Homo sapiens: one gene and its partners. The protein of the gene in region 1 purifies or fractionates together with the protein of each later gene. This does not show direct contact. Each region holds a gene or a part of one and is shown on either strand. Other genes may lie near its edges.

Evidence for each region. The genes of interacting proteins can lie anywhere in the genome.
Region 2: the proteins of TPRA1 (region 1) and BMPR1B purify together in Homo sapiens (affinity purification with mass spectrometry; 2 studies listed by BioGRID and IntAct, with this or other methods). This does not show direct contact.
Region 3: the proteins of TPRA1 (region 1) and SLC6A8 purify together in Homo sapiens (affinity purification with mass spectrometry; 2 studies listed by BioGRID and IntAct, with this or other methods). This does not show direct contact.

What each region holds. Positions count from the first base shown.
Region 1 is NC_000003.12:127,569,698-127,574,574, reverse strand, and holds the end of TPRA1 (transmembrane protein adipocyte-associated 1), read left to right. Parts: intron 1-786; coding exon 787-1,054; 3' UTR 1,055-3,343; downstream 3,344-4,877.
Region 2 is NC_000004.12:95,145,870-95,154,021, forward strand, and holds part of BMPR1B (bone morphogenetic protein receptor type-1B isoform b precursor), read left to right. Parts: intron 1-2,878; coding exon 2,879-3,054; intron 3,055-6,773; coding exon 6,774-6,904; intron 6,905-8,152. UniProt on the Homo sapiens protein: On ligand binding, forms a receptor complex consisting of two type II and two type I transmembrane serine/threonine kinases.
Region 3 is NC_000023.11:153,690,841-153,698,155, reverse strand, and holds the end of SLC6A8 (sodium- and chloride-dependent creatine transporter 1), read right to left. Parts: intron 6,853-7,315; coding exon 6,603-6,852; intron 6,182-6,602; coding exon 6,049-6,181; intron 5,116-6,048; coding exon 4,981-5,115; intron 4,894-4,980; coding exon 4,790-4,893; intron 4,695-4,789; coding exon 4,570-4,694; intron 4,252-4,569; coding exon 4,139-4,251; intron 4,027-4,138; coding exon 3,889-4,026; intron 3,813-3,888; coding exon 3,710-3,812; intron 3,624-3,709; coding exon 3,523-3,623; intron 3,438-3,522; coding exon 3,267-3,437; intron 3,083-3,266; coding exon 2,942-3,082; 3' UTR 1,568-2,941; downstream 1-1,567. UniProt on the Homo sapiens protein: Creatine:sodium symporter which mediates the uptake of creatine. Plays an important role in supplying creatine to the brain via the blood-brain barrier.

The DNA.
Region 1 (4,877 bases):
AAGCTTGTACCCTGTTGGGGGAAGACTTAAGTGGGGAGCAGGTTTGGGGTGGGAAGTCAGTTGGATTCTCTGGGGGTGAGTACACTGCTGTGCACATGTGCATCTGCAGAAGCGTCTGTGAGATGGGATGCTGAAGACATGGGATTGGGGGTCCCACTCCAGACCTTAATGTGGTCGGAATGTGGGTGTTTTGTCCCCCCTTTCTCACCTGCCAGGTCTTGTGGGGAGGGGATCAGCCTCCCACCTGGGTGAAGCTGGGAGAGGGCCAGACTGGTCCATGGCCCCAGCTTGGATCTTTGCACACAATTTCTCCCCTGAGCCTCAGGCTCCTTTTTGTAAATTGGGTGTAGTGTGTCCCCCTTGGAGAGTTGCCCTGAGGGCCGAGGGACGAGGTCAGAGTGGAGTGGGTGGTAACATGAGCAGCAGGGGTCACAGGAGTGGGGGCGGAGGCCACAGCCAATGTCTCCTGAGTGCTTGGGCAGGCACTGTTGAAGCCTCATGATTTATGTCCATTCTTCCTCCACACGGTGTCCACACACCCATTTCACCATGAGGAAGCAGGCACAGATGCCCCCCGCCTGAGCTCACACAGCCAGGGGGAGGAGGGCTGGGTTCCAAAACAAGTCTAGATGGGCTCTGGGGTCCAGCTCACAGGCCCACTCAGAGTGGGTGTCAGGCGACTGTTGGTCAATTCCTTCCTTATCTGGTGGCCCCATCAGCCTGGAGAGGAAGGCTCTTCCTGAATCACTCAGTGAGGCTTCCATGCCCCTCTTTTCCTTTTATCAGCTCGGAGCCCAAGATCCTCTTCTCCTACAAATGCCAAGTGGACGAGACAGAGGAGCCAGATGTACACCTACCCCAGCCCTACGCTGTGGCCCGGCGGGAGGGCCTGGAGGCTGCAGGGGCTGCTGGGGCCTCAGCTGCCAGCTACTCGAGCACGCAGTTCGACTCTGCCGGCGGGGTGGCCTACCTGGATGACATCGCTTCCATGCCCTGCCACACTGGCAGCATCAACAGCACAGACAGCGAGCGCTGGAAGGCCATCAATGCCTGAGGGCAGCTGCCAGGGCCTGTGGAGGACAGGCCAGAGAGGAGGCCAGCAGGCCCAGAGTCCCCAGGGGAGGAGGACCAGGTCAAGGGACGTTCTGTGGGCAGTAGCCCTGTGTGGCCCTGTTCCCACCATGAGTCTGGAGGCCCCACCTCCCTGGGGCTCCCAATCCCCTTTGCCATCTCTGCTCTCACTGGGGACCCTCCTCCCCTTCCCACCTGCTCTCATACTGCTCAGTGACATGGCCCAGGCTTTCCTTCCAGGGCCATGCTTGGCAAGGTTGGCTGAGGGCACCCTCCTTCTCTGCACCCTTGGCACGAGGGCAGGGCTGGCTCTCCCAATGCCTCCATCCCATCCCCATGGTGCTTTGGCCTCCTCAAAGCATCCACCATGGTGGATGGACTGAAGTGTGTATATTTTCTTGATCTATTTTTTAATAAAAAGGAAAAGGAGCAGAAGGTGCTAATGTGGAGGTTTTGCAGGAATACTGGGGCTGGTTCCTTTCAGGAGCCTGAGGGCTGGGTGAGGGGCTGGGAGGCTCAGGGGGCCTCTGCTCAACCAAGGAGCAGTCCCCAGTGCCCAAGCCCTGGGCTGGCTGCTGGGGAGGTGAAGAGAAACAGGATCCCAGCTGCCGCTGCCCCTGCCCCTGGGCCCATCTGAGTAGGGGGGACAGACATGGAGAGAGAGGAGAACTATGTTTTGTGAGCCAGCCCCTCTCCCTTTGTCAGACACACACTGTTGTCTTGGGCAGCCGGTTCTCTCTGCTCAGCTCCATTAAAACGCAGAATGGACTTACTATTGCCATCTGTAAAATGCGGAGAAGACCCATCCTGCAGGGCCTTTTGTAAGGATTGGAAAACACTAAGCACGAGTGGCTGGCGTACAGTAATGAACGATAAGGATAGCTCTTATTTTTAGCCTCAAGAATAGTGCTTGGCACATAGTAGGCCCCCAGCAGACAGGACTCGGGGACTGATGTTTGTCATAAGGATGGGTGTGGTTGGCTGAAAATGGGAGTAAATCAGAGCAAAGCACTGGGATCATAAGGCATGAGTAGGGGAGAGGGGCCCACTTGTCCCTGCCACTGCCCTTGTACCTGAGTTCGGCTTTGAGCTTTTTGGCAGCCAGAGTGAAAGGGAGTTGCTGCCAGTTATGTAATCCCCAGAGTTGGAGAGGAGGAGCCCATCCAGGACACAGCCAACTGCATGCTTCAGAGCCTGGGGAGGTCTCAGCCCTGGCTGTGGGGACCCTGAGGATCAGGCTGTTGCCCGCCTCCGCGATCAGCCTTTTTTTTTTAGGGGGGAATGGGGTGCCGAGGGCACAAGCTCCAACACAGCTCATGTCTGTGGGGCCAATGTGTCAGGCTCCCTGGGAGGGCCTGGAGGGTTGATAGCGGACAGGGCCAACAGTACGGCCAGTGAGCTGGACTCCTGGGCTGCAGGGGGTACTGCAGGGTGCCCCTGAATGGCATACTTTATCGGGGCCTCTCAGCTCATGTAAAAGCCTGGTAATCAGGGAAGGCAAGCTCACGGCATTCTGAGTGAGCGGGGTAAGGGTTGGGGCCAGCAGGGATTTGACCATCAGATCCACATGCAGTCCAAGATGGCACAGTGTCAGCCGAAGTTTGCTGGCTGCAGTGAATGAGCAGAGAGGCATCAACAGAAGAAAAGAGACCATTTTTATAATTTTTAAGTTTGTTTTTTAAAAATAGGTCATATATGTACATGGCAAGAAAAAAAAAGGTTCATGCAGTACAGGAGGGTATTTGGTGAACGATAAATCTCCCTGTGTGGCACTGAATTCCTCTGTCCCCCTCCTGAAGCACCCAGGGTCTCCATAACCTTCCAGAGCCATCCTGTGTTCACACCAACGGATGTGTATATCATCCCTCTTTCTGTAATGCTAATGTCCTGTAGCTCACTCCAATGGATCTTGGAGATCATTCCATGTCAAGTGGAGGACTGCTTCACCCCTGCAGCTACATATATATGGATATATGGCAATTTATAAACCACTTCCCTTTTGTTTCTGAAAAATTTTGCAACAACAAACAAGGCAACATCAACAATCCTTATAAATTTGCTTTTGGTAACTCATGCAAGTAGAATTGCTGGAGCACACAGTCTTAATTAGTTTTAATTACTCTTATTAGTCTTCTGCAGAGATCAATAGTTGTCCTCCAATATATGTTGTTTTTCTCCATTGGAAGAGAATCCCTGATTTTTCGCTAGATACACAGCTGTCTAGAATAAAGACTGCATTTTCTAGCCTTCCTTGCAGGTGGGTTCTGGCCAATGGATGTAAGTATGCATGCAACTTCCTTAGAGATAAGAGGTGGCCCTTCTTTCCTGCTGACTGGAATGTGCTTATAATGGCTGGAGTGATAGCAGCCATCTTGAACCATAGGGTAATCTGGGGAATGGAAGTTTCTCATTGCAGTGCGACAGGATAGAGAGAGCCGGTGTCATGGACACTGTAGTGCATCTGTAACGACCTCGGACGTCCTACCTTCAGATGACTTTTGGAACGTATGAGAGAAATGAGTGGCTATCTTGTTCAAACCACTTTTGATGTTTCTCTTACAGTTGAACCTAATCTGAACCAAAACACCCATTCCAAGAGGCTATGCCAGCTTTCATTCCCACCGGCACATCCTCACTGACGTGGTATGCCAGTCACATTTTCAGTCTTTCTGAAGAGCCCTGCTCAGACCACGTCTGTGTGGTGTCTGGGTGCGAACAGGCATTAGGCAGAGGAGCGGCTGGATGCGAGGTTTCTGGAGTCTTAACGTGGTGACAGAGTTCACTGTATGTGGCCAAAGTCTAATCTCACCTTCCCACTGCTGCTGCACATGGACTGTGGACCTTGGGCAGGTCACAGCTTCTCCTTGATCCTCAGTTTCTTCACTAGTGGTACAGGGTAGCAGGTGACTGGTTGCCACTGGTATCCATTTTTCCTCCCTCAGTAACTGCACCCTCATGTTTGTGGGTCAGTGAAGCACCCACCTTAGAGGTGTCACCATTGAGAATTTAGGGAAGAAGACCTTGGACACAGGGTCCTCAGTTGCTGCCAAGCTCAGTGCCAGCCACATGGCCCTGAAGCAGCAGAGCTCTGAGACCTGCAGGTCCACCCACCCAGAGCACTGGAGCATGGTGATATAACGGGTGAACGCATGGCCAGTGATGTATGGGTTTGCCAGGGCTGCCATAACAAAGTACTATAGATGGGGGCCTTCAACAACAGGGGTTTATTTTCTTACAGTTCTGGAGGCTGGAATTCCAAGATCAAGGTGTCCACTGTTGGTTTCCTCTGAGGCCCCTCTCCTGGGTTTGCAGTCAGCCGTCCCCTTTCTGCCTTCTTGAGTGGTCTTCCTTCTGTGTGTGGGGTCCCTGCTGTCTCTCTGGGTCCGAATTTCCTCTCTTTATATGGACACCAGTCAGATTAGATTAGGACTCCCAATGAATGGCCTCTTTTCACCTTAGTCACCTCTGTAAAGGCCAAATCTCCAAATGCAGTCCCCTGCAGAGGTGCCTGGGGCTGGGGCTTCAGTGCATGAGTGTTGGGGGACTGACTTCAGCCATAACAAATGGCATTAGAGCCTCTCTCCCTCTGACCTCCTGACACTGTGCAAGAGCCTGAGACCTTACCAGATCCACGGAATAGGCAGAAAAGCCCTAAGCATAACTGAGGTTAAGTCTTCCTCCTGCTCAGCAGAATGGGGCCATGGTGGAAACTCAGCAACATTCTAGAAAATTCCTGGTGTGCTGTGGTGGGATTCCCCCCGCTATGTGGGACTGGGTCTTCTCCAGGACAGCCCCAGGTTCTGCCG
Region 2 (8,152 bases), on another chromosome or scaffold:
TTATCCTTCTAGAAATTGGTAAGATCTCATTTTATGGCCCATGCAGTCCAGAGATTTTTACATTTCCCTTTAAATTATCCATAGCAAAGTTTAGTGTAAACAAACCTTTTCCTTCTTTCATTTAAAGTACATTATTTTCCTGTCATGTGCAAGACACACTGCGAATGGAGAAGGATTGGGGCTATGCTCTTTGGGGATATACCAAATGACTATGACAAGTATTTGGGGGCTCAGAGGAGTTGATAGTCTTCAGTTGGAAAACAGATTACTTACTCAAATGTTACTAGGGAGAAGATTTATTCAGCTACTACTAGGGCAAACGTCTAGGGTGGGAGAGGAAGGGGAGGAGAGAGATGGCTTATTGCTGAACATGCATATGTATTTAAGGGACTATGTAAAGGACTGATTTTTGGCATTTGGTGGACATTCAGAATCCTTGAGTGTATGTTTTTGCAGTGTTTGAGAAAAAGAATTTAGAGATGAACTATGTATACTCCAGCTGTCACAAATTTTAATTCTATTATTAGGTCACAATTACCTTTCATTTTTCTAATAGATATCTCTACATCACACATTCCATTATCTTTTCCTGACCTCCCAAATCCAAATAAACATTAAGGAGCTAAGAGTAAGAATGGAATGAAATTGCCTAAAATCTTTATCAACTGTGGTCAGATTACACCTTTGGCCTTTCTAAATGCCCTTCTGTGTGGATTGTCTTAAGATTCTTCTTGTTCTGGAATACAGTGGAGGTCTTTAACCATCTTCTTTTCATCTGCAAACCCTCATGTTTGTTTTCTCTGCATGGGACCCAGGACTTCTTACCTGGGGTCACCACTATCTTCCTCATGATTAAAAATTAAAATTAGGACATGCTGGCACCACATTAGTGAAATCCCTACTCTGCTCCCATGAGAGGTGTCAGCAGGTGGAGTAGGAGGAGAGCGTGCTTTATAAATGGAAATGGAGCTTTTGTAGCATCTATTCAATCTGACATGTTTCCAGTTTACCATTAAGTCTCTTCTCAGCATACTTTCCTCCCCTGTCATTTATCATTTACACATACAAATGACAATTTTCTATTATACCAATAAGTGCTGAGAATTAACATTTTAGCCTCTTTTTCCAGTTTTAGAAAAGATCCCAGAACACTGGGACCTATGTTTGCATATGGTAAAGAATACCATCTGTTTTGTTTTTTAATTACACTTTAACTTTTTTTTTAACGTCTTAACTTTTATTTAAGAAAACAGGCTAGTTATTATTGCACCTAGAAAACCACGAGGGGCCTAATGAGTACACTGATGACATATCTGTTGATATGTCATCTTATCTAAAACATAAAATTTTAGATTAAGAATTCTAGCCGGAAGTGACTTTAAAATGTTCTAAAATGAAGTTTTGCATTTTATGTTTTAGTAAATGTAAAAATTTTGAGATATTCAGAATGACACTTAAAATGTTCTCAAATGACAAAAAATGACACCATGTATTTCATGTTGTAGAAGTGGTCAAGGCAATGAGATCAAACCCAGAGGTTTTTGATTTTTGTTTTTTTCCTGAAGCCACTAGTGTTTTGGTATTGACTATCTATGACAGCAGGATAAGTGTGATATTCGATAAATGAATCTGTTTTCCAGGCTGAGGAGAAATAACATGTAAATTCTTGAAAGTCAATAGAGTGTAATGAAAAGCAAAAGCAAAAAAAAAAATTGTTGGGAATCAGGAGGTAGAAAGGTTTATTCAAGATTTTCCACAGAGTTCAGCTTAATAATGAGTTTCTGTACCTTTTTGGTTTTATAGTATACCTTATTTGGTTATAGTCTGTTCATCTGTCATATCTAGGGTTTGTTACTTTTCTACCTAGTTCCTTTACTTTCTGATGAGTTACAGTACTTAAGTATCTAATATGTGCCTAGTACCATGTTGGCAGGGCTTGTACATGTCATCTCATTTAATCATCAGCCTAGTCATTCAGCACCCTTAGAACAGGGGCTGGAACTGTGGCTCCAGCTCATCGCACTGAAGCAATGGTTCCCAAGTGCCAGTGTGCAGGTTGTTGTCCCTCCGTCATTACTCTTTTCCCAGTCTATGGGAAGGAATAGTAAATGGGCCTGTTGTAAAATTTTCAGAAAGTTAAAGATGTTATATTCCATTATTGTTTTCTTCCTTTGAAAAAAAAAGTTAAATGCTATTTGGTTCATAAAACAATAGTGATAGCAGAAAGCTTTTTTATATGTCCCACCTTGTCAGAGTAAAACAATTGCATGTCTTTGTTGGTTCTCTCCTTCTCCCCTTTTGAAACCTGTTTATAGATCTAAGAGCTTTACAACAGCTGGCTTAAAAAATACTGTTTCACATGAAATTGTCATGTGTGCATGCCCATTTTAAGAGTAAAGTTTTTAAAATAGGAGGGGAAGGAAGAGGGTTTTTTTAGATATTTAATATATATTTAGCAGTTGTTTAGGGTATAAATTTGATCTATTGGTAATGCAATTTTAAATGCTGCAGCTTCATTCTGACTGAGTTTTATCTTCATTGTTTTTTTTTTCTAACTTTTTTTAAGAGATGGCATCTCACTATGTTGCCCAGTCAGGCCTTGAACCTCTAGGCTCAAGCTATCCTTCCACCTCAGCCTCCAGAATAGCTGGGCCTACAGGCATGCACCACAGTATCAGCTTGCCTTTCATTGGCTTTTAACCTGTAAATATTTAATATAGCTTTTGGCAAGAAATATTCTTTAAGAAATTGTTTTTATTCCCTGGAAAGTTTTTCTTTTCCACTTTTCACTAACTAAAGCCATTGTTTCAGAATCACCTTGATTCGTTTTTGTTGGTCCTCTTCAATGCTGTAATGCTTTGCTTTACTTTTTCCTTAGTGATACAAATGAAGTTGACATACCACCTAACACTCGAGTTGGCACCAAACGCTATATGCCTCCAGAAGTGTTGGACGAGAGCTTGAACAGAAATCACTTCCAGTCTTACATCATGGCTGACATGTATAGTTTTGGCCTCATCCTTTGGGAGGTTGCTAGGAGATGTGTATCAGGAGGTAAGAAACAGTGCTGTCTTTGAAAAGCTACTATTGGAGCTACTATAAATCCTTTCTTTCTGATCAGAAATCAAAGTTATCATACTGTCTATAAGATCTGGTTTTATTTTCCCCTTTATTTCTGTTGATGCAGTCATAGTGCTTCCAGGAAATTATATTCGACATCCTAGAATAATCTTTGACTGCTTCCTTCCTCCAGCTGCCACTAGACACACTGTCAGCCTACCCTGCTTTTTCAAGCATCACTGTTTTCTGCTCTGTGTATTGTCTTATTTCTGTCTTGGGTTCTTCCTCCAGCAGTTGCTCGATGAAATCAAACCCCCTTTTCTGTCCCTGCCAGTTTATTCTCACCTAGCTGCTGGGCCCCATCCCCAACTCCATTCCCTGGGATTTCCTCTGCAGAGATGACAGTAGGCCATAAATGTGGGGTCGGACACCCATTTCTTACCTGCTGTATTTTTTATAAAACTTCCCCATAAAGCAATTTGAAAACATCAGTTTTTTATCAAAAGGAAATTAAAGTATCAGAGTATTATTTTTTTATATTGTTTTTTCTACACATATGAGGATTCCCTAGTAAAAACAATTATAATGAACAAGAAGACATATTTAAATATTCAGAAGTATTATTACTTGTACTATTTTGATTGCTCTACAGTCTGTCTTCGAGTAAATTCTGACACCTTTTAGGCAAGGAGCTGAATCTTTGGCTTTTCTGTATCAACTCTTCTGTATGTTATTCCATGGTTGTGCTCATTAAAAAACCTTGATGCTGCTGCTGTTCCTCATAATGGCCAATTTAAGTCTATCTTCATGAAAACATGAGCTTGCTGAAGATTCTGAAAGTGCAGCATGCACTTAACTAGTACTGAGATGTGTTCTTGTTCCTGCTATTTATCTGTGATGCCTTGGACAGGTTATAAACTTTTCTTTGTTTCAGAGTCCTCTTAAAGATGAATTGAATTATTGTATCTGCTTCTGTGGTTGTATGGTTTCAATGTAAAGATAATGAGAACTGCCTGGCACATAAATAGCACTCAATACATGTTAGCTATTATTACTATTAATACTTTTCATTTTGGTTGGTAGAGCCATAACATCTTTAGGTTCATATTTAAATACAAAGAAGAAACAGTTAATCAACCTGCATTCACACTTCAATAGAAAGATCATTATCAGTGGCACAGTGCCTTCTAATAATCACTTTGGGAATTCTGAACCTGTTTTAAGAAATTTGAAATAGAACACATACTCTCTGAAGTGAGGGAACTATTTTGTGCAAAAGGAAAGTTAATGCAGGAAATTTTCTCTAACCAGATATTGAATAAATTTCTCATTCTAAGTGTAAAGAAGAAGTAACCAAAAAATTTAACAAATTGTCTATGCCTTGATTTCACGCATTATAAAGAGTAGATAAGCCTCACGTTTGCATTCCCAGCATTTTGGGAGTCCAAGCGGGGAGGATCAGTTGAAGCCAGGAGTTGAGGACTAGTCTGGGCAATAGATTGGGACCCAGTCTGTATTTAAAAAGAAAAAAAAAAAAAAAACAAGTAGACGAGCCTTTTAAAAAATAATATGCTTATACTTAATTAAGATAGCTTTATGGAAGTTGAAGGTGTAGAGAACAAGGTTATTTTTCTAATTATGTTTTCTTGAACATCTAAAACAAACAGGGCTACAGGAAGCCTATATTTGAAAGCCTGTGGGCCAAATACAGGAGAAATTATTCTCAGCTTAAAAACAAAGTAGCTTTATATAAACAGCAGGGTATTAATTGCTGTGCTAGGGTATTAATTTGCTTTGCTAGGGCTGTCTTTGGATGTGGAGATTTGCTATAATGTTGCCTTATTGTTAGAGGTGTTGGAGTCCCTGCTCTGTCCCATACCAACTGAATGGACTTGGGCAAGTTACTTAACCCCTGAGAGCCAAGTTTCCTCATCTGAGTAGTGTGGAGAATAATGTCATCTCAGAAACGCATTTGTGAGAATTTAATAAGATAATTTATATAGCATACCTGTTTCCACAACTGGGATAGAGGAAGCTCTCAATAAGCGATTTTATTTTTCCAGAGAGGCAAAGCACACAAAATTCTATTTTCTAACACTTTATGAAGATATTAGAAGTTTTTTGGGCTTATCTTTCTAGTCCAGGCCCTTCTGGGTGAAAGAGACACATCCAGATGTAGGCCTTTCCATCTTTTAAAGGAGAAGAAAGACAGAAAGGTTTGAGGTTTCAAACAGAGTTAAATGGCAGCTAACAGGAAATTTTGAAAACTTGATTACATGACATGGAGAAAAGAATAAGGCCTATTATTCAACAGTTAGATTTGAGTAATTCATAATTTTAAGTGGTGAGCTCTGCCTTCGTCTGTTGTAGTAGATACACCTACCCCACCCCATCCATCAGTCCATCCACCAGCGGAAAATAGGAGATGGGTTAAAGAGATGTGGGCTTTGCCTTCAGGCTGTTTCCAGGGCCATGGTCCTGAGAATGAGAAAGGGAGAAAGAACTGAAATGAAGCAGAGCACATCCTGCGTGTTAGGCCCTGTGCTTTTCTTATCTCATATGGAGGTAAAACACAGTGAAAGGAAATATTAACATAGATAATACATATAATTAGCTCTGTGGTCACAGCAGGGCACAGGACAAATGGTGAGTTGGAATGGTCTGAAAAAACTTCTGAACCTTCTGGTCCTTGATGATTTTATAACAGATTTGAGTTTACAAGAAAGAACATAACACAGACCCCAGATTTTGGCAGAGTAAGCCCCCAGTGAATTTAACGATGTGATATATAATCTGCCAACTTGACGGCATCATCTTTTTCAGATGAAAAGCAATGATATTTCTATAAAAGATGATTTAGGATAGGGAGGAGGGGTGCTCCCAAAAGATTGTTCAGAGCAGCAGCCTCTAATGTAATTATTATAAGGAGTTAATCTTAAGAAGGTGAAAAAGAAGATACTAGAAGCCTGCATTTTTAAAGGAGAAGAGGAAGAAGGTAGAAATTAAATACTAGGAACAATAAAATGAAAGTTTAGTGTGCATTTTTATGAAGATGCTATAGATTTATATTTCTTTTCTTTTAACAATACATATTTTTTCTAATAGTAATGTATTCCTTACTGAAAATTTGGATAAATATAGGAAAAAAATCAGATAATCCTTGAACCTAAAAAATTCATGGTTAATATTTTTGGGTGTCTGTAATTTTCTAAATTTTTAATGTGCAAAACCACATTCCTACAATTAAGCAGAAAAAATGTAAATCTGACATTTTGTTCAAGTAGGATACACTTCTGAATTTATTATGATATTCATAGTTTCATACTATAGTAATAGAAACAGTCACATGTAGTATGAGTTCAGGATATGTCTTGCAGATTTGCATTGAGATTTAATATAGATTTGTCTTTTAATTTGTTCTTCATAAAAATGGAAATAAATTTAAGATGCTTGTTTTACTTAGCTTTTGGAAATTAGGAAAGAAAGGCTTGAAGACCTATGACAATATTTTTCATTGGGCTTTGTATTCATTTTTTCTAAATTAGATTAAGTACCATTTGGGTAAATATTTTTCAAGATTTATTTTGCTATTTTTCTGCCTGAACTTGTCTGTAATACTGATAGCACTTTTCCTTTGAGAACTGTGTTAGACTTTTATTTCTACTTCACAGAAAATAATAATAATAATAATAATAGTAACAACATATTTTTAGGTATAGTGGAAGAATACCAGCTTCCTTATCATGACCTAGTGCCCAGTGACCCCTCTTATGAGGACATGAGGGAGATTGTGTGCATCAAGAAGTTACGCCCCTCATTCCCAAACCGGTGGAGCAGTGATGAGGTAAGGCTTGAGGTAACCATGTGGCTGTGACAGACTTCTAAATAGACTTTTCTTTTTTAGCTAAAATTCCACATATTGATTGTAGGAATTCTTCTTTTTTTGATGGTGATGGTGATGGCGCCTCATTGCAGTAATTTATATGAAGATAAGTGTAGTATGTTAAATTACTTGTTCTACTTTTCCAATTTTATTTTGCCACTTCCAGAATATATTGAGTGAGTTGGTCAGTGTTTAGCCTGCATAACAAATAACATTATTTTCTTTATTTATAATGTCTTGACATTTGCATAAAACCTATTATTTCTCTGTGTGTGTTTTTAAAGCATCATAATTTTTCTCTGTGACAAACCCATGTACAGCATTCTCCCATTTTGATTAGAGAAAAAAAGTAGGCATGTTAAAGTGATACAGGTTGACCTAGTTAAGATGCCTGACTGTGCTGGGTGTCTTTGTTAATAAGGATGACGAGATGTGATTTGAACAAATCCACCTTCAGCTTGGCTCTAAGGCTGTAGTGGTGAAACCTACATAGGTCTGGAAAGCAGCGGCTAGTAAGGAAGAAATGAGTCTTGCCTTTCCTGACTCCTCCTCCTGTTCCACATTCCTCTCCTTCCACCCTCGCAGCCTTCAAACTCACCATGTTCTAGAGTTCTCTGGCAGACTGGAATGTTCAAGATGAGTTTGAAGCACCACTGGAAAAAAAAACAGGCTCTTATCAAACGTACCAAAGCACTGCAAAGGGGGGACAGAGCACTATTTCTGAAGTGTAAAAGCCATTTAAATATAATCTCTGGGCCGGGCACTGTGGCTCACATCTGTAATCCCGGCACTTTGGCAGGCCGAGGCGGGTGGATCACTTGAGTCCAGAAGTTCGAGACCAGCCTGGCCAATATAGTGAAAACCCATCTCTATTAAAAAATACAAACAATAGCCTAGTGTGTTGGTGCACACCTGTATTCCCACCTACTCGGGAGATTGATGCACGAGAATTGCTTGAACCCGGAAGGCGGAGGTTGCAATGAGCCAGGATCATGACACTGCACTCGACAGACCGAGACCCTGTCTTAAAACAAATAAACAAACAACAACAAAAACAAAAACACCTTTGGCTCATTGGTTTTGTGTCTGGTTACTAAAATGCTAAATAATATATACGTTTTCCAGCAAGCTGTGCAGAAAGCTTTATGAGATGCTGGAGCTCTGTTATTGTGGGCTTTTGGTGTTACTTGATATCTCTTCACTGAGGAT
Region 3 (7,315 bases), on another chromosome or scaffold:
GTGCCCTGCCATGGTGCCCAGCCCTTTGAGGGTGGGGTGCCACATGCTCATCTTGTGCACGGGGTCCCGCCCGTTGAAGGACCTGTCTGTACTCAGTGTCTCCAATTCCTCTCCACCTCTTCTCATGGTAAAACGCATATATATCATACATATATATAGTGTCATCAGTGTATATGTAATGAGCCATTTTCACCATCGTTAAATGTGCAATTCAGTGGCATTAAGTGCAGTCACAGTGTTGCGCAGCCACCACTTCCATCCACCTCTAGAATTTATTTTCTCAAACTGACACTCTGTCCCCACTCAACACTCCCCACCCTGTCCCCAGCCCCTGGCACCCACCCTTGCCCTCTGTCTCTGTGGATCTCCCTCCTCTCATGTAAGGCCCTGTCTCTCTCACAGGAGCAGAACCCTATAGCAAGTATCCCTTTATGATGGCTCATTTCACAGAAATGCCCTCCAGGGTCAGCCATGTTGTGTCGTGTGTTGGAATGCCTTCCCTTTCCAGGCTGGCTCATATTTCCTTGTCTGGGTGAACTACGTTGTTGTCTCTCCCTTCGTCTGCAGATGACACTGCGCTGCCGCCACTCCTTTTCTCAGTCGCACACCACCCAGCCTTTCACACGCACCCGCTCATGCAAGCCACCCTCGCCAGGCCCCCGTGACCCTTGCCAGACTCAGTGAGCATTTGCAGGTCACTGTCCTTCACCAGCAGCAGCACTGGACAGATGGAGCCAGCCACTGCTCCTCCCTGACCTGTGAGGGGTCCTCACTGGCTCAGGTTGCAGGACCCCACCAGGAACTCTCAGGCGTCCTCCCCTATCACTGCCACGTCTTCGCTCTGCCCCTCTCATTGTGTTCCGGGGCTTGCGGCGTCCCTGTGAGCTCACTCAGGCTCAGGGCTTTCAGTGTCATCTCTATGTGGTAAGAACTTGCACAGTTCCATCTCCAGTACTTTCTGGAACTCCTGTGTCCACCTGCCAACTAGACATCTCCACTTGGATGACACTTCCTGCATGACACACCCAAGGCTGACTCCAGACCATTCTCTCCTTGCCTCCCCATTGCAGGACCTGGCAGCTCCATCTTTCCTCTTGCTCAGGCCAAATCTGTTGTCCTTAACTCCTCTTTGAGCCCTGCATCCTGGTCATGCACAACCCCTATTGGCTCCACCTTCAAAATTGATCCCTGATGCAGAGTTATCCCCTCTGCTGCTACCAGCCTGGCCCAAGTGACACAAGGCACCTGTTCAGTGACAAATTCTTGGGGTAACATTTTGAAAATTTCAGCACCCATGGCTTTACGCCCACCCTTCCCCGCGGGTGTGGCTGCTCTCCAGCTCACTCTCGTCCTGCTCTCCCCAACTGCCTCGGCTCCAGGGGGACAAGGCCTTCCCCTGGGCTGCTGCCTTCCCTGCCCCCTTCCCAGTCCCCAGAAGGGTGCCGGCCGCAGAGGCCTCCAGAGCAGAGCCTTGCTCACGGCAGCAGCTCCAGCTGGAGGAGGTTCCCCCTGCCTCCTGTACCCCGACCCCTTCCTTAGAGCAGCAGAGGCGGAAGCAGGAGCCTGCTTTGGAAAATGACATGTTTTTATTGCTATGTCTGCAGTGGCTTTTTAGCACAGTAGAATGTCCCCGCAGGCCCGCCACCCTCACCCAGCCCCAGCCCTGCAGCCTCTGTCTGGGTGTCGGGGAAGCCTTTCTTGGGGTCACTCAGCCGTCTCGGGACTGGACGTGACAGACAAACGTGGGTTAAAGCTGCTACACAGAAGACTGGAGGTGCGGGAAGTGCATCCACCTTAAGCCTGGACGTGGGAGCCGTGTCCAGGGTCCCTTCCTGGGGGTGTGCCCCGCACAGGGTGGGAAGCCTGAGCAGGCCAGGTTAGCAGCCCAGACACCCAGGACGGAATATTGCAGCCTCTTGCCCCACAGACTTGTGGCAAAGGGACAGCGTGGGGACAGCCCCGAGGCCCCCACCATGCACTTTTCCAATCCAGTCTGGGGCTGGGGACCACACACGCACATCCACACAACAGACTCACACACGCAACAGCTCGAAGCTTTTGTTTTGCCTATGAAAGTTAGATCTATAAATTCACACTCCTTGGCTAGGGGCAGAGGGGTAAGGTAGGGCTCACAGGGATGGGAGTGGTAAGGAGAGGATGGTTTGGGCTCCTTCCTCTTTTTAGAAATATACAAGCAGAAATCTCATTCTCTCAAGTTTTTATAAAATGTGCAAAATACAAGCCTCCTTTGCCCAGAGGCGCCATTTACATCTGGCATTCACCTTTGCTAAGAGATAGAGATCTATATATACTCTCCGTACTCACGCACGCGTGCACTCGCACCCAAGCTCACACAATTGATACTGGTGGCGATTGGCGCAGGAACCAGAAGGTTCCATTGCTGGCTGGCTCTCTAAGCTTCTATAACAGGGATGGGGAGAGGGGTATAGCCCAGCTGAAATATTTGCCTTGGTTCTGCTGCCCCTCCCCTGCCTCCCTTCTCCTCTCTCTCCTCCCTCCCGTCTCTCCCTCCTTCCCTTCCTCACATTTCCCAAGCTGCCACTGCTGCTTCTGGGGTGAGGGGTCACCCACGGGTGTGCTGCAGAGCAGAGCCTGGAGAGGTGGGCAGGGGGTGGGCGTGGCAGGGGCAGGAGGAGTGCAGCACTGTGGGTGGGGGTGGGGCACTAGGCGGGGCCTAGGACCAGCTCGGCTAGGGCTGGAGGGGGAGAGGCATCTATTTTTGGTGGGTTGTGATATTTTTGGCGTTTTATTAAAAATGGAAAAAGTTGTTTTAGTGAGCACTCATGGTGCTTTCTCCCCTCCTCCCCCAGGCAGACCCCAAAAGTGTCAGGGAAAGGCAGGCCCCCTGGAGGGGTGCGGTGGGGCTGAAGCAGGGGCTGCTATGGCTACCAGAGGTGAGCTGGTGATGTGAGCTGAGTTGTCACATGACACTCTCCACCACGACGACCTTGCTGCTCTCGGACACTGGGGTCAGGGTGGTCAGGCCCCTGACATCTGCGTCCTGAGCTCGGTACTCCAAGTGGTGGAGGCCCCAGATGGGCTGGGTCAGGTGCTGCCAGCGCTGCAGGAGAGGAGGACATGCTGAAGCCCCCAGGGTCACCTGCTCGTCCCCACGGTGACTTCCTCTGCCTCTCTCCGGTTCCCACTGCCTGCCACCCTAGTCGGGGCCACTCCCTGGCTAGGAAGCAGGCTGGGTTGAATGTTCACAGCAGGGGAGGGGAGGGCGGGCCGGGCGGGAGCCTTACCTCAGCCATGGTGCCCTTGGCCCTGAGGAGGCAGCCCAGGAGGTGCAGCGGCACGCACAGCATGGAGGACAGGGCGAAGGCCCAGCCCATGGCCTCACCCCACCACGGGTACACGTAGGTGTTGTTGTAGACCAGCGGCTCGTAGTACACAACGTTGAAGATGAAGATGCCCTACGGACCAGAATGCTGCGGTTAATGGGGCCCCTACCCCGCCCTGCCTCGCCCCCCGCCCTGCCCCACCTCCCCCAGCCCTTACCATGCAGACCAGCGGGGTGAAGAAGGACCAGCACCATTTCATCCAGGGGCAAGGTCGGTACCCGATCATACAGGCAATGTCGTCCATGAAGCGGTCAGCTCCTGCGGCGAGGTGAGGCGGGAGGGCCAAGCTGGAGACCTGCCTTCCCCGCCACCATCCCCCAGCCCAGCCCTCAGCCATGACCTACCGTACACCCAGGCCACCACCACGCACTCCCAAAAGGCCTGCCAGAGCAGGGTGGTGCCGCTGGCCGAGTAGTAGTCAAACAGCTGGAAGACGTACATCCCGCCCTGGGGGACAGAGCCCAGTCAGGGAGGATGGCAGACGGCCACCAGAGGTCACAGGCAGACCCCCCACCCCACTCACATCAGTCACCATGGAGAGATCGATGACAAAGCAGAGGGCACAACAGAGGGCCACAGAGATCTCCCTTTGGAAACGGAAGTAGTAGGAGGCCGGGAGGAGGTCGAGGAGGCCGGTGATGAAGCCCTCCACACCTACAAACTGTGGCCAGGGCAGCTCAGGCCGAGCCCCGCACCGCCCTCCACCCCTTTCCTTGCCTGCAGCCCTCCCTCCGCCCCCCTCCTGGCTCCCTGTCCCAGAGCCCCATGCAAACCTGGCTGTCGAGACCAAGCAGCAACAGCATGAAGAAGAACAGGGCAGCCCAGAGTGGGGCCACTGGCATCAGCGTGACAGCCCGCGGGTAGGCGATGAAGGCCAGGCCCGGCCCTGTGGGAAAGGTGCAGGCTCTAGACCTTGTAGCCGATGTCCTGCCCTGTGCGCACCCTGAGCCCTGCCTGCAACACTCGCGCCCATGCCCACGCCTGCCTCAGAGGCGCTGTCAACCCTGGGTCGTGCGGCAGGGGCTGGGAGGTCCTTTCTCTGTCAACATTGACAAATCCCAGGACCTGCCCCCACAGGCCCACAATCTGACAAGTTCCGTTTGAATCCTCGTCACTTTTCAGCATTTCTATTGCATGTTCCTGTACATCATGCATCTGGGTAGCACTCGCTGCTCTGGAGGCGGGGCTGGGGGTAGGGCCCTACCTGACTCTGCCACCTTGGAGATGTGCACGCCCTGCTCTGCAGCCATGAAGCCCAGGATGGAGAAGACCACGAAGCCAGCAAAGAAGCTGGTCCCACTGTTGATGAGAGCCAGGATGATGGCGTCCCTGAGGGGTGGAGGGGCCAGAGTGGATGGGTTAGGCTGCTGGGCAGGGCGGGGCAGGGCAGGACAGGGCACGGGTGGCAGGGCGGCGGTGCTTACTTGTAGCAGTTGTTGTTGAAGCGGTTGTAGCTGCCCAGGGCTGTGAGGGCCCCCAGGCCAATGGCGTAAGAAAAGAAAATCTGGGTCCCCGCATCTATCCACACCTAGAGAAGGGCCGGAGAGCGCAGGCATGAGGGGCCTGCAGGGCTCCCCCGCAGCGCCCTGCTGCAGCCTCTCCACCTCCACCTCACCTGAGGGGACCCCAGCTTTGACCAGTCAGGCTTGAGATAGTAAATGATGCCATCCAGGGCGCCAGGCAGCAGCACTCCACGCACCAGCAGCACGACCAGGACCACGTAGGGGAATGTAGCAGTGAAGTACACGATCTGGGGGGCCAGGCTGCTCAGCGGAGGCTGTGGCACCACCTCCCTCACACCCCCACTCCCAGCGCCTCCGGTCCCCCTTGCGGGCAGGTATGTTCAGAGGTCCCCATTGTCCTCCGAGCCATGGCTCCCGCCAGAGGAAGCTAGGGGCAAGGCTGCGCCCCGGCAGCCCTGGCCAAGTGCAGTGGGGAAGCTCCCTGGGCGCCTCGTTTGTCTGCAGGGACGCGTGTCGGTGGGGAGCAGGCGAGCCTCTGGGAGCTCTCCTCAGTGGGGACAGGAGGCGTGGAGCACGTGGGGAGTGAGAGCTGTATGAGTGTGTGGGCAGTGCAGGTGTGGGAGGCCCAGGCAGGGAGCGGGATATTGGATCCGGGTCGGGTCCCCCTCCTCTTCTGGAGAGAGGTGGGGGTTGAGCAGGTGGAGAGTGGAACTGGGCCAGGCAGAGGCAGGCGAGATGCAGCTGCCACACTGTCTGCCCCCTCTTCCCACATGCTGCTCTGGGGACCTTGTCCCCCAGGGAGCTGGCCATGTCCCACAGCTCTAGACACTGTCTTCTTTGTTCAGGTGACTCCCCAGCCTGACCAGGAGCCCCCAAGGGATGTGGCCAGACTCTGCTCTGGGTCCCCAAGGCAAGATAGGTAACAGATGGCCAGACCAGGTCCACCAGACTGTCACAAGAGTCAGAGACTGGCAGGAGGGCACCAGTGGGGGTGATGGGCACAGGGAAGGGACAGTGCCTGCCAGGGCCTCTATCCCCAGGAGCAAAGGCTGCTGGGCCCTGGATTTGCAGGGTGGGGAGCATTGCTTGGCTTTCAGTACCTCCCCCTTCCTTAGGGCTAGACTCTGTCTGGTCACCTCCCGTTGCCACAGGTGTGCCTGGCACAGACATCCGGCTCCCAGGGCTGAGCCACCCTCCCCGCTGCATGCCTCTAGTGGTACCTTTCCCGTGGATTTGACCCCCTTCCAGACACAGAAGTAGACCAGCACCCAGCAGGCCAGCAGACAAAGGGTCACCTCCCAGTTGAGGGCCCCTGGCACCTCCAGTCCCCCAGACAGCCTCAAGACTTTGTTCCTAGGGGAGGGAGGGAGGTCCCATGAGGCCTGTGCCAGCAGAGGATGGAGCCACAGGGTCCACCCCCAGGAGTTGTGGCTCCCTTCTCTCCCACAGCCCAGGGTTCAGCGGGTCCCTCTTGTCCAATTGGGCTGGGCCTGGAGCCCACGATCCCCTGGCCATTGGGAGGCCACTCCCATCCCACCTCACATGCAGCCCCAGCTCCCCCATCAGGGGGGAGTGACCAGGACAGTGATCGGCTGCCGAACCCAGGAGCGAGGCTGGCCCCAGGACTCTCCGAGGACAGGCAAGGGCAGGCAGGGTCCAGGATGGACTGCCAGGCAACACCCTGGTGCCCCCTCAGGGCCACTCCCCTGGAGCCGGGCAACATGAGGGAGACCTGGGGGATGGGATGGGCTTGGCCCAGAGGTGCCGGACTCACTCCCAGAACTCGATGACAGGGGACCGGCGGTCAGCAAGCTGGTCACAGGTGAGGTTGGCCAGGCTGGCATTGGCACAGTCTTCATGGCGGAAGATCTCCACGCAGTCGGGAGTGTTCCAGGTGTGGCCACATGTGGCCCAGGGCAGCGTGGTGGTAAAGGACTTGACCAGGTAATAGAAGCCCCAGGCCAGCACCATGATGTAGTAGGTGTTGCAGTAGAAGACGATCACCATGGAGGCGTAGCCCAGGCCTGGGGCCGGGAAGTCCTTGCCATGTAGATTCTTCCCTGGCCACCTCCCCCTGCCACCCCTTTATGTCCCCACCCAGGCTGGCCGTGCTCCCACCATCTGTCCTCCTGGAGCCTTGTTTGTGGTGCTCCTGACTCCCCTGGGCTCCCCCTTGTGTGAGCCCCAACACTGCGCTGACTCCCCAGCCTGTCTCCTCTCCTCCAGCCGCCCCCTAGACCCAAGGCAGAGCGAGCCCCTCTCCTCCTGTCCCCATCTGACCAAGTGCTGTGGAGTCTCCAGCCTCATACACCTGGCCCCTTCTGTGGGTCCCACTGCCACCATGGCGGTTCCAGGAGGTCCAAGCCTCTGCCTGGCCACCCAGTAGCCTCCAGTCCTCAGCAGCTGGTGTTGATGGTGGTGGTGGGGGGGGGGGGTTTCTAGTCGCCTGAGGTAGTGTTGGAGACAGTCGCCCCTGCAGTGGGCAAC